2 separate regions of the Homo sapiens genome follow, and region 2 is linked to region 1. The links come from fine-mapping of genetic effects on gene expression. A gene starts in region 1. The other region holds a variant in brackets. All regions are shown on one strand. Distances are from middle to middle. Region 1 holds the start of SLC2A12 (solute carrier family 2 member 12). Region 2 overlaps SLC2A12 (solute carrier family 2 member 12).

Evidence for each region. PIP is the estimated chance that this variant, and not a neighbour inherited with it, causes the effect. A credible set is the group of variants that fine-mapping cannot tell apart.
Region 2: its variant is the best candidate, but not a certain one, in a credible set for the expression of SLC2A12 in cartilage (Steinberg 2020, PIP 0.53).

Annotation. Positions count from the first base shown.
Region 1 is chr6:134,050,051-134,055,436 of GRCh38, forward strand. It overlaps SLC2A12 (solute carrier family 2 member 12), which reads right to left and starts at 2,574. Exons shown (of 5, transcript NM_145176.3): 1 at 2,328-2,574. The coding sequence starts at 2,430.
Region 2 is chr6:134,023,000-134,028,385 of GRCh38, forward strand. SLC2A12 (solute carrier family 2 member 12) reads right to left here. Exons shown (of 5, transcript NM_145176.3): 2 at 5,382-5,386. Among named protein-coding and RNA genes, the nearest start is that of SLC2A12, 27 kb to the right of the region's middle. The variant A/C (reference allele first, on the strand shown) is at 2,871.

The sequences.
Region 1 (5,386 bases):
GAAGCCAAAAGGAGTATTTGACAAATATTACCTCATTAAATCTCAACACCTTCATAAAATAGATGAAGATACAATCCCAATATTAATGAATGGAGACTTTAAGTAACTTAAGAAAACCATACAGCAAGTCTGCACTATGCATTCATTTATACATATGTATGTATAATTGCTTTTGGGTGCCAAAAGATGTTTAAGATAAGTTAAGAAAATTTACAAAAGTAGAAAATAAAAGGTTTGCATTCATCTAAATGCAGATTATGTATAGCACAAATCAAAGTTGTATTCATCTGACATTTTAAGGAAACATTCAGGCTTTCTCTTCTACAAAATGAAAGTTAATTTAAAATTAAATTTGAAAGATAATTTATGGTACTTATTCATTTATTATTTCTTTACAACATAAACAGTTGCACTTTAAGTTGAATTTTGTGCATGTAACCAACTATTGCAAATGTAAATACACATTATCTTTCTTCTGGATAATTGTGAATTTGTACAATATAAGCTATTAAGAGCACATTGTACCTTCAAAGCCATATCAAAATAAACAGTCCATTTTTAATGGTTACTACAAAGGCTCTTCCTAGGCAGTTTCTTTTCATCTTCTTTGTGACATTATCACTGACTGTATTTAGTGAGCCCTTTTGTTAACATCACCACCTCAGCTTGCTCTGCAGTCTAGACTGCAGCTCATGTTCCCAGGAATTTGGAGAAAAGAACTTTGCAACTCTTTCCCTTTATCTCCAAATATAAGTTTCCCTTGCCTGCTCTTAGGGAACTTGTGGGCCAATGAGTAGCAAGCGCTTAGGGAAAAGGGTACTTCTGCATAGGAGAGGACAGGCCATATTGAAAGATGACCCCAGATATTCTTTTATTATTATTATTATTATTATGTTAGACAGAGTTTCACTCTGTCACCCAGGCTGGAGTGCAGTGTCATGATCTCAGCTCACTGTAACCTCCAAGTGATTCTTGTACCTCAGCCTCCTGAGTAGCTGAGATTACAGGCATGTGCCACTATGCTCAGCTAATTTTTTTATTTTTCTGTATTTTTAGTAGAGATAGGGTTTCCGCTCTGTTGGCCAGGCTTGTCTTGAACTCCTGGCCTCAAGTGATCTGCCCACCTTGGCCTCCCAAAGTGCTGAGATTACAGGCATGAGCCACCACGCCCGGCCTCATTCTTGACGAGAAGTGTGAAAGCAAGAGAAGAGATCAGGACATGGAAGATGGAGGGCTTCTCCACTCCTGAAGAGGGCCGCTTCATGCCTCGATGTTAGGGGTCACAGGTTCGATTCCCCAAGATCAGACAAACCCACAAGGCAAACGTCAGTATTAGGACCATTCCCAAGAGAAAGGCAGATGTCTTTTGTATCATTTAGTGTATTGGATTTTGCATGAAATTTCTATATGCTGCTTGGGAATGTAATATCTGATTAAGAATACACAGCTGAGGAAAGTAGTAGGAAAGAGAAGATTTTTTGTGTTTGTTGTCATTTCATATTACAATTACTTTCTATTCCTTGCAGCACAAACTAAATGAGCAGGAAGAGGCAGCAAAAAGCGTACAATGTATTTGTGGGAATTGTAAATGTGGAAGTGAAGACCAGCCTCTGATTTATCAAAGATCATTAAATGAATTAAAACTTTTCCAAATTTCACCTTCAGAAGGTCATCATAGCAAACAAACCTCAGTTTGCAAGGCCAGTTTTAAAGAAGGCAGAACCCAGCAAAGCAAGCGTTTCAGGCTCTGAATAACGCTCAAATTCATCACAAACGTGCTGGGAATTTAAAAAGGAAGTTTGTGTTCTCATTGATTACATAACTAATAATTTTATGAAGCCTGTTTAAAATACTGATTTTTAAAACAGTGGTTATAATGTCAACTGGTTACACAGTGTCCATTTGTGACAATAAATGAAAAAGTGTAAGCAAGCGTGTGCTTGTGTGTGTTTACAAATGAGACTATCTTTGCCAGTGGACCGTTCCAATATGAAAAACATCCATACATTGTATTATGTAAACACAATCAAGGGGACCCATCATACCAGTGGTGGATGTGTAACCTGTATTTTCTTGGCACATAAGGTTCCACCAAGACTTCGATCTTCACAACATTACAGCTCCGAGCTGTCCCACGTCCCACCAGACCCTGTCCCCTTCTCTCCACTCATCCAGCGCGCCCACATGCGCGCGCGCGCATACACACACACACACACACACACACACACACACACACACACACACACGGGACTCAAGAGACAGTACACTCGGGAGATGAGTACAGCTTGCTTCTCTGCGGTCACCCGAGCACTGCAGGCTCACTTTACCTCTCGCCCAGGGAGGATGCCGGCTGCCGCTGCCCTCCGTCTCCACGGCTGTCCCCTTCTGGTTCAGCAGACTGGGGCCCTCGGTGTTTTCAACAGGTACCATGGTCACGTAGAAGTTACAGCCGCTTCCCCGCCACCAAACCGCCCCGACCACCCCCGCTCCCAGGAGTGGTCACTTTCCCCATAATAGCATGCTAAAGAAGAGTGTGGGGAAAAACTTCGGGCAAAGCTAATGTGATTTGTGACCAACTTTGTTTCTATTTCCGAAGGCTTTGCCCTTTTCGGTGACACAGGCTGTTGCTATTCCAAGCAGCCTATCACAGGCAGGGGGAGGGCCGTGAGTCAGAGGATTGTTTTTGCCTTTAGATGCAGAGTTGGAAGCAAGGGGTTAAAAGAAAGGGAACTCAGACGGAGTGTTTGGCCATTAGCTAAGGGTAGCTCTTGTATTCTAGCACCTTTGAAAAGAGGCAGAGAAAGGAAACATGCAGATTTAAATGCAAGCTGAGAGTGGGGATAGAATACTCACAGATGGTATCAGTTAATCTTGCAGAAAGAGGAACAATTTATGCAAAGACATACCAGAAGGAAAAGTGTGTCAATTTTTCAGCAAGACTGTTATTCCAAAAGTCATGGTATTTACCAGCTTACACAAAGCATAAAATACCTTTATTGTTTCAACCTGATTTTGGTCTAGGTAAAGGCCTATATCTTTCTCTCCAAGGCCTTTCAGATAAATCACAGCCTGAGACCAAAAATACACAAACTCAGAATGCACAGATTCTTTAGACTTTTTATATGCTGAGGTTATAGCAAAGTAATCCATTTCTTAATGCAGAATTGTCTTTAAGAGACAAATTAACACTGAATCCTCTGTTAGGTTTCATGTTTGCGTAGGTAGGAGGAGGATACTCCTCACTCAGAGAGGCCAGACTAAGTGGCCCATTGTGTGCGTGTGGTGGACATGTAATCTCAAACAAAATCAGGTCATGAGAGAGGATCTTTTTCTGATTTGTGAACATATTTATAAAAAAGTCTTACAGGGTTATGACATTTTACCTTCAGTTATTCATTCAACAAATCATGTTTATTAAAAAAAAAAGCCTTATAGAGGAAATTGAGATCATCTTAAAAATCATTTGGAATAAAAACTAACATGTGTGGAGCACTTATGTGCCAGAAATTGTGCTAAGCGCAATAACGCAGATGATGACTTTGAGGCAGGTACCAACATTATAGAAGAGGAAATGGAGGTTGGGTAACTTGGCTACAGTCTCACAGCTAATCAGTGGTAGAGCTGAGATTATGAATCCAGGAGGTCTAAAGCTGTAACTCTCCTATATTCTAACTTCCCAGCCTTGTCCTTCTCTAATTTTCTTGGCTTCCTATGGTTTCAGACCTACTCGACTTTAAGAAGATGCCGTGAAATATGGCTTTTAGTCATAGGCATTTCTCTGGACAGAAAAACAAATTTGTGCTTGTATAAGCAGAAGCTAAATTTTTGTTACTTCTTTTCAACATTTTAACTGAATCACTTCAAAGTTCTAAATTCACTTATTTGTACATTTCCTTTGCTTGTCATTAAATAATTCTATATTTTTCTTATCTTTCAGGGAAACAGGTAGCAAATGGAAACAAACCTATAATAATTCAACTAGTCTTTATTATGTACCCGTTGTATGTCTGCTGATAGTGCTAGAAAATGGAAGTCCTCCAGGCATAATCCAGGCCCCTTATGATTAAGAGGGTGAGAAGTTCAGAATCCCACACATCAGTGTCCCCACTAAAGAATGTGTAACGCAACCATGGTTTGAAACAACTCATTTTATTTGTTCCCAGGGTGCATTATAATTATATAGGAGTCCCAGTTTCTATCTGTGAGACACATATGTTTCCCATAAGTTCTCTATATTCTCTTGGCTTCTAACTTCTTTCTGCTCAGAACCAATGACCTCATTAGGGGGAAAATGTTCTTGCAATGGGTTAGTTGTATCATTGCTTTGTTTCGTGATCCCACAACCTGTGTTTCTAGCAGCTTCTTGGCCCCATGGGAGTGTTAGAGTGTTTGCTATAGTGCTTGACTAGACAGAAGACAAAACTAATTCCAGAATACTTTACTATGGTTAAAAGCAGTTCAACAGTTCTCACTCTGTTTTGTGTAGCCAAACCATACAGGAGATCCACAGGCATAGTAAGCCAACCAGGAGTCAAAAAGAATGCTCAGCAATGCAACTGACAACATCACCTCCTGGTGCTCCTAATTCTGTTCTTTATTCTGCTGGTGACCTGACCGGGGCCACTGGCTATCTCAAGCTCTGTTTGTACTTACCTCAATCTCTTAACTCAGAGAAAAGTTTAGGGGAGAAAATTTTTTTCACCCAGACTAGAGGGGGGAAACTCTGCCTCAATTCTGTTACGAACCCTGTACTTCTCCTTCCCAGCCTTTTGCACACCATAATGTATTTAATACAGTTAAATGCGGTGATTCAATTAAATCTGCCTTTTCTGCTAGATTGCAAACTCTATGAGAGTATGGACTATGTTTGTTTAGTTTATTATAGTATTCTGCGTGTCTGGCACTCAGCAAATACTCAGTAAGTATTTGCTGGCTGACAGACTGATCCCTGTAAATCCAATAAACTTTAGCAACACTAGAATGTATGCTCCAAGAGGGCAGGCACCTATTTCTATCTTGCACATTCGTCCAGCTCCTAACACAATGCCAGGCATGCAGTAGACACTTAATAAATATTTGTTAGATAAATGAGTGCTCACAAATAGAGCTTTTAGTGACTAAATAACTATTTAGTTTTTAAATATTAAAATCCATATGATGATTGCCTATGACATTTTGTCCTTCCTCTCTGTTTCTGCCAATTCCTTTAGACCAAGTATAACCACAGGCTATCCATCTTCCCTGGAGTTTGAGCCACTTCCATTATTAAAATCTGTTCCTCCACTCAAGGAATTCATAATCAGCAGACAGCAGACAGTTCATTCTTCATAACCCCAATAATTTTGCTACATACCACTTTGGACCACTGCTCATAGGCAATGCTACC
Region 2 (5,386 bases), 27 kb before region 1:
TTGGTCTTTGTAACCTTTGGTTACAGTCTATGTGGAATTCTTTTTGTCTTTCAAAGCTCCCCCTTTGCCCCAACCCCCAGATATGTCTATGAACCATCACAGCATGCATATCACAGGTTTGCAACACCCCCGCTATTCCGTATTAAACTCTTTGCTTCGGAGAGTTGGTCACTCATTTTAGGTTGACAGTGGTCTGGAGGATGGATGGGTGTGAGAAGGGCCTGGAATAGACAATGACTTCTGGAAGGGTATCCCAGTAATCTGACAACGAGATGATAAGAGGTAGCATAGGATGGCAGATATAGGAAGGAAACCATAAAAGCAACAGCCGTTGTGATGATTGACTGAACTGAGAAAAAGCCCCAGAGCATCGCTCCGAGTGGCAGGAAGAGTGACTGCCCTCTAGAAAGGGAATGGAAGTGGTAAAGAACCCTGGTACAAGAGGAAAAGGAATTCAGCTTTGGGGTTGTTGTGTTTGGCTGACAGTGAAGCATGGAGGGGGAAAGGTTTAGTACTCATTGGGAAAAAAGGAGCTAGAAATCATGTGAGACGATGGAACTGGAAATAAGCGAGAGTCATCAGCTCAAGGGAGATAATTAACGTTCCTGAGAAAACAAGCATGAAAGCCTTTATAATGCATTAGCAAATGTGTTTTTCAGTTTTATAGCTAAAGAAACAGAAGGCGAGGAGACCTTAATGAAATGACCTCACCTCTTATTTTAGATGGAATGGAAGCTAGTCATATATTTGAATAATTAACATTTTGATTTTTAAAGTTTATCACAGCAATGGACTGAATTTAGGGCCCTTGACCTTTTGAAATTTTTTCCCCCACAGTCACGTGTATTCTCTCTTAGGCCAGAGTCTGTTACTGTGATGATTTTGTGCTGTGTTACTTAGCTAAGCTAGAAGGACATTTCCCAGAATTCCCTTCCCCTGGGTAGCTCTGGATTAGGGTTGGAAAGAAGAGAAATTTGCATGATTTGGAAGGCCAAAGTGACCCTACAGTGCTGTGCTTGAGGCATTGGTGCCGGGCCCTAGCCACCACCGCAGCTCGTGCACCCTGCTGCCGATCACTGGTTCCCCTTGTTGGAGTGAGGGCCCAGCGAGTTTGGCCAGATCTCCTCCTACAACTTCTCCAAGCACTAGACTGGGCTCTGGGAGAAGGCAGCAGTTTTTCTGCAGGTCGCCTGCCTCACTGGAGTGATGTGGCGAAAGACATGAGTGCTGCAGTTTCCTCCCATGGATTCCAGTTTGTCTACCGGATTCAGTGAGTCGTCTCTGCTTCCCTCTGCTTTGAGTCCAGCTTTTCCTCCGGCCTGCCCTGCTGCCAAGCAGAAGCTTCAGAAGGCCACCACCAGATGCCAAGACCGCAGTCTTCCACATACTTCTTCACCAGCTTCCCTCTGTGCCTTGATTAATAAATTTTTCCTTTTTCCCCAATTGTCCCCTTCTAGACCTTTGTGTTCTCAGCTTCTCCTACAATTGTGCGATACCAAATCCCTATAGGAAATGATTTGCCGTATCATTCACAGCAGTCCTAATTCCCTGCTGCAATTGCTCAGGCTGTCTACAGATTACCCAGGCCCTACTATACCCAATCTCCCTTTAGTTGACTGCACTCGTGCATTTTTACTTATTTCCAAGGGACCATTAGCTCTTAGTAAATGATGATGAGATTTTTAAATGCATCTTAATATGCGTGAGATTTTTAAATGTATCTTATATAAATGGTCATCATGATAGACTAGAAACCAGAATTGAATAATGTATAGAAAAACTATAGACTTCAGGTGTCTGACCCTGGGCACCTCCACAACACCCAGAACTACCCAACTCCAGCTATTAAGTAAGAGAGAAAGAAACTTCTAATTTGTTTAAGCCATTGTTATTTTGGGCCTTGTTACATCTGCTGAGCTTGAATTCTACATTCAGCATTTTCTCAATACGTTCAGTTATGAAAGTAAATGCACAGCAAAAACTCTCTTCTTGTTATTACCCTTCTTCTCTTTCATCCTATATCTCAGCCTTATAAAAAGTACATGTTCACTTACTTAGCAGAGCTTCAGAAAAGCAGAGACTATTTCTCTATTTTGCAAAATGCACAATGGTCCATTAGTATCCTGATGGATGGACAATGGTACACTATTTTTATTCATTCTTCCTCCTAGTGGACTTTCAAGGAGAAGAATGAACTAAAAATAATTAACATTTACCCTTAAGATCAACACAGGACTGCCTATTCCTGTCTTAGACTTGAGATTAATGTTGAATTTCAGAAGATAAAACATGTTTTCATTTATTTCAGCAAGTCACTTAATTTCTCTGAGACTCAGTATCTTCATTTGTAAAATGCAGTGAATATCCTTTCTTATCAGGCTTGTTTTGAAGGTAAAATGAAGTACTGCAAAGTACGTAAAAGCTGCCTAGCACAGTATTTGACATACTAGGTGTCAATAAATATTAGTGGAATCTAAAGCTTAAACCATATTTTAAAAAAATTAGCATAGAATGTTATTGAAAGACAACCAGCCGACAGAATGTTTTCTCTTTTGTTGTTTTGTTTTCTTTTTTTGGAGACAGGGTCTCACTCTGTTGCCTAGGCTGGAGTGCAATGCTCACTGCAACCTCTGCCTCCCAGGTTCAAGAGATTCTCCTGCCTCAGCCTCCTGGGTAGCTGGGATTACAACTGTGTGCCACAATGCCTAGCTGTTTTTTGTATTTTTAGTAGAGACGGGGTTTTCACCATGTTGGCCAGGCTGGTCTTGAACTCCTAACTTCAAGTACTCCACCAGCCTCGGCCTCCCAAAGTGTTGGGATTACAGGCATGAGCCACCACTCCCAGCCTCCAGTAATTTTTTCTAAAATCA[A/C]ATTTGGTTTTCTGAAAAGGAGAACTCTTGCTCTAATACAATAAGGTATCAAATGATGTGTTAGAGACTGGAAGATTTGCTGCATTTTTCAAAATTACCCCAAAACTAAAGAGAGATGGGTGGCATGAAATTGAAAGGACTCTAACCATGAGTAGGTTGGTTCAGGAGGCCTAAGATCAATGTCTCTCATATTGATCTCATATCATAATATGTGCCATGACATATACCCTTTTAACCTGAGAGGTTTTCTGAATTAGAAAGAAGAGGGTATCCCTTCCTTTTTTTGTGGCTTTTTCTTAGACTCTTAGCTAATCTTGACATTTCAAAAAATTGGACCAAGAAAATTGATGTACAAAGGAAATACTTTTAGTTTTATGTTGAATATACAAGAAGGACAAGAGATGCTAGCAGAAGAAACCAATGGAACAGTAACTACCACCTGAAGTTTATCAAATGAGCAAAGCTTATTGTACTTGTTAACATAGAGAAGTTTCACACCCAAATCTAAGGTGTTCCTTGGTACAAGACTGCACCTATATCTCGTCCTTCTGCTTTGAAGAGTTTCTTGAAATAAAAATGTAATAAAAATAAAATAAAGAAAATAATAAAAATGAAAATAAGAGGTTAGCTCAAATTTCATTAGCTTAAAGTGTCATAGTAGCCATATGAGTATCTCATAGGTATACACTCAAGATAATTGAACCCCAAAGTAATGGTAGAAATCTGTTTCCGGGAAACTGTTCATTAATGGTAATTATCATTGTTAAGTCTTAAAAAGCAGGTTTAAGGTTCAGGAGCAGGTCTGAGTCATCAGAGGCTGGTGGTATTGTAATGTTTACTCTATCTGCCCAAGCAGTCTTATAGCGGGAAATATGTCTACTCACAGTGCAGAGGAAGGGCCATGTCTTGGTCTTCCATGTCTTGGACCATGACCCAATCTTGCCACAGCTGTTTAGGCCTGAACTTCCATCTCTGACTTGGCACAGCAAAGAGCAGCGTCAATCAGATTTCACCTAACCCTTCTCTCTCTCTCTTTGGAATTTGAACAAATCAATATCTAGAAACTGAGTGCCCTTAGAAGTGGAATTAGAAGCTGAAAAATGAGGAGGTGGAGTTAGAGCAGGAGAGGACATATCAGCCATGTGCAAGTCTAGTTATTAATTGAGATTAAGCAGGCCAAACCTGCTGGTTGCTGACCAGAAGGAGGCAGATACAGAGAGTATAGCTCAGTCCATTCACCTACAATCTCCCTGAAGATAGGGACAGTGTCTGTCTTGGTCATTATCCTTTCCCCAATATTTGGCATAGTTCCTGGTTATGAAAAAAATTCATCACTCAATACATATTGCTTGAATTAATAGTTAATGAGTTAGCAGTGGATGACTAAAGCAAGCCCCTACATGGCCTTCTTTCCAGAAACCCTGTCCAGTACCTAGAACCAGAGCCCTACATCTCCCCATGAAATTCCTTCTTCAGCATAGCCTATACCTTCTTATTGGCCTGAACCTCCAATGTTTCCCATTATTTGAGCCAATTTGTTTGCCTCCTTGATCCTTTTCAACAAGTTTCAAAACCAACTTTGTGATAGAGAGGGAGAGACTTAGAAAGAAAGAGAAAGGAAGGAGAGGAATAAAAGAGAAAGAGAGAGAGAGGAATGGGGTAGGAGGTGGGGGTAATAGAGGCTACCTTTAAGCTTTTAAGTCCTCCTTTTTTTTCTAGTGAGGCGTACAAAAGACCCTTCACAGCCTCCCTACAGAGACATTCAGGCTTTAGATGTGAGGCTAATAGACAAGAGAACTACAACAAACAGCCTATTCTAGTAAATCCATCTCTAAAAGAGTTTGCCCAAGAGAGGTGTTTATACTTTGTCATTAGAGCAGACTAGTTATATAAAATAAAACCTCATAGCTATGTCCTTGTAAATTGTATTATGTTGAATGATAGCAACTAGACTTTCATGCTTCTGTTTAATGGACAAGAGTAAAGTGCCATGGGAGGCTACTCTAGTGAATAAGATGTACTCAAAATAGTAATAATAATACATCCTCCTTCTCAGCTCATAATGTCTTCCTTCTTTACTATCACTGGAATGCATCCACTATTGTGTCTTTAAGAAAATCTAAACCCTTGATTTTTTTCCTTCTACATAGGAAGAAACTCAGAGATGATATAGAGGAAAATGTTACCCATTTTATGAAAGCAAATTTTGCTTTCATAAAGCAATGTAATTCCCTTGGGCAATAAATATCTTTCCAGGTCTGGTTCATCCTCAATTAATGGGAATTAAAGTATCCTCATGTGACAGATAATGGGAAACTTATCTTTCAGTTGAATACTAGCCCTGTACTTTTCAGAAGCAGATATAAGCCAAGCATACTTTCTGCATTAGAAGGAACATCAGATGACCAATGTTATCCTTGTCTTCCTTCTAGCACTTATGTTCATGAGGTACTATAGCAGTAGGATGCTCTGACTGGTCAAAAGCAATACATTAAAGAATAAAGTACTTACTTGGT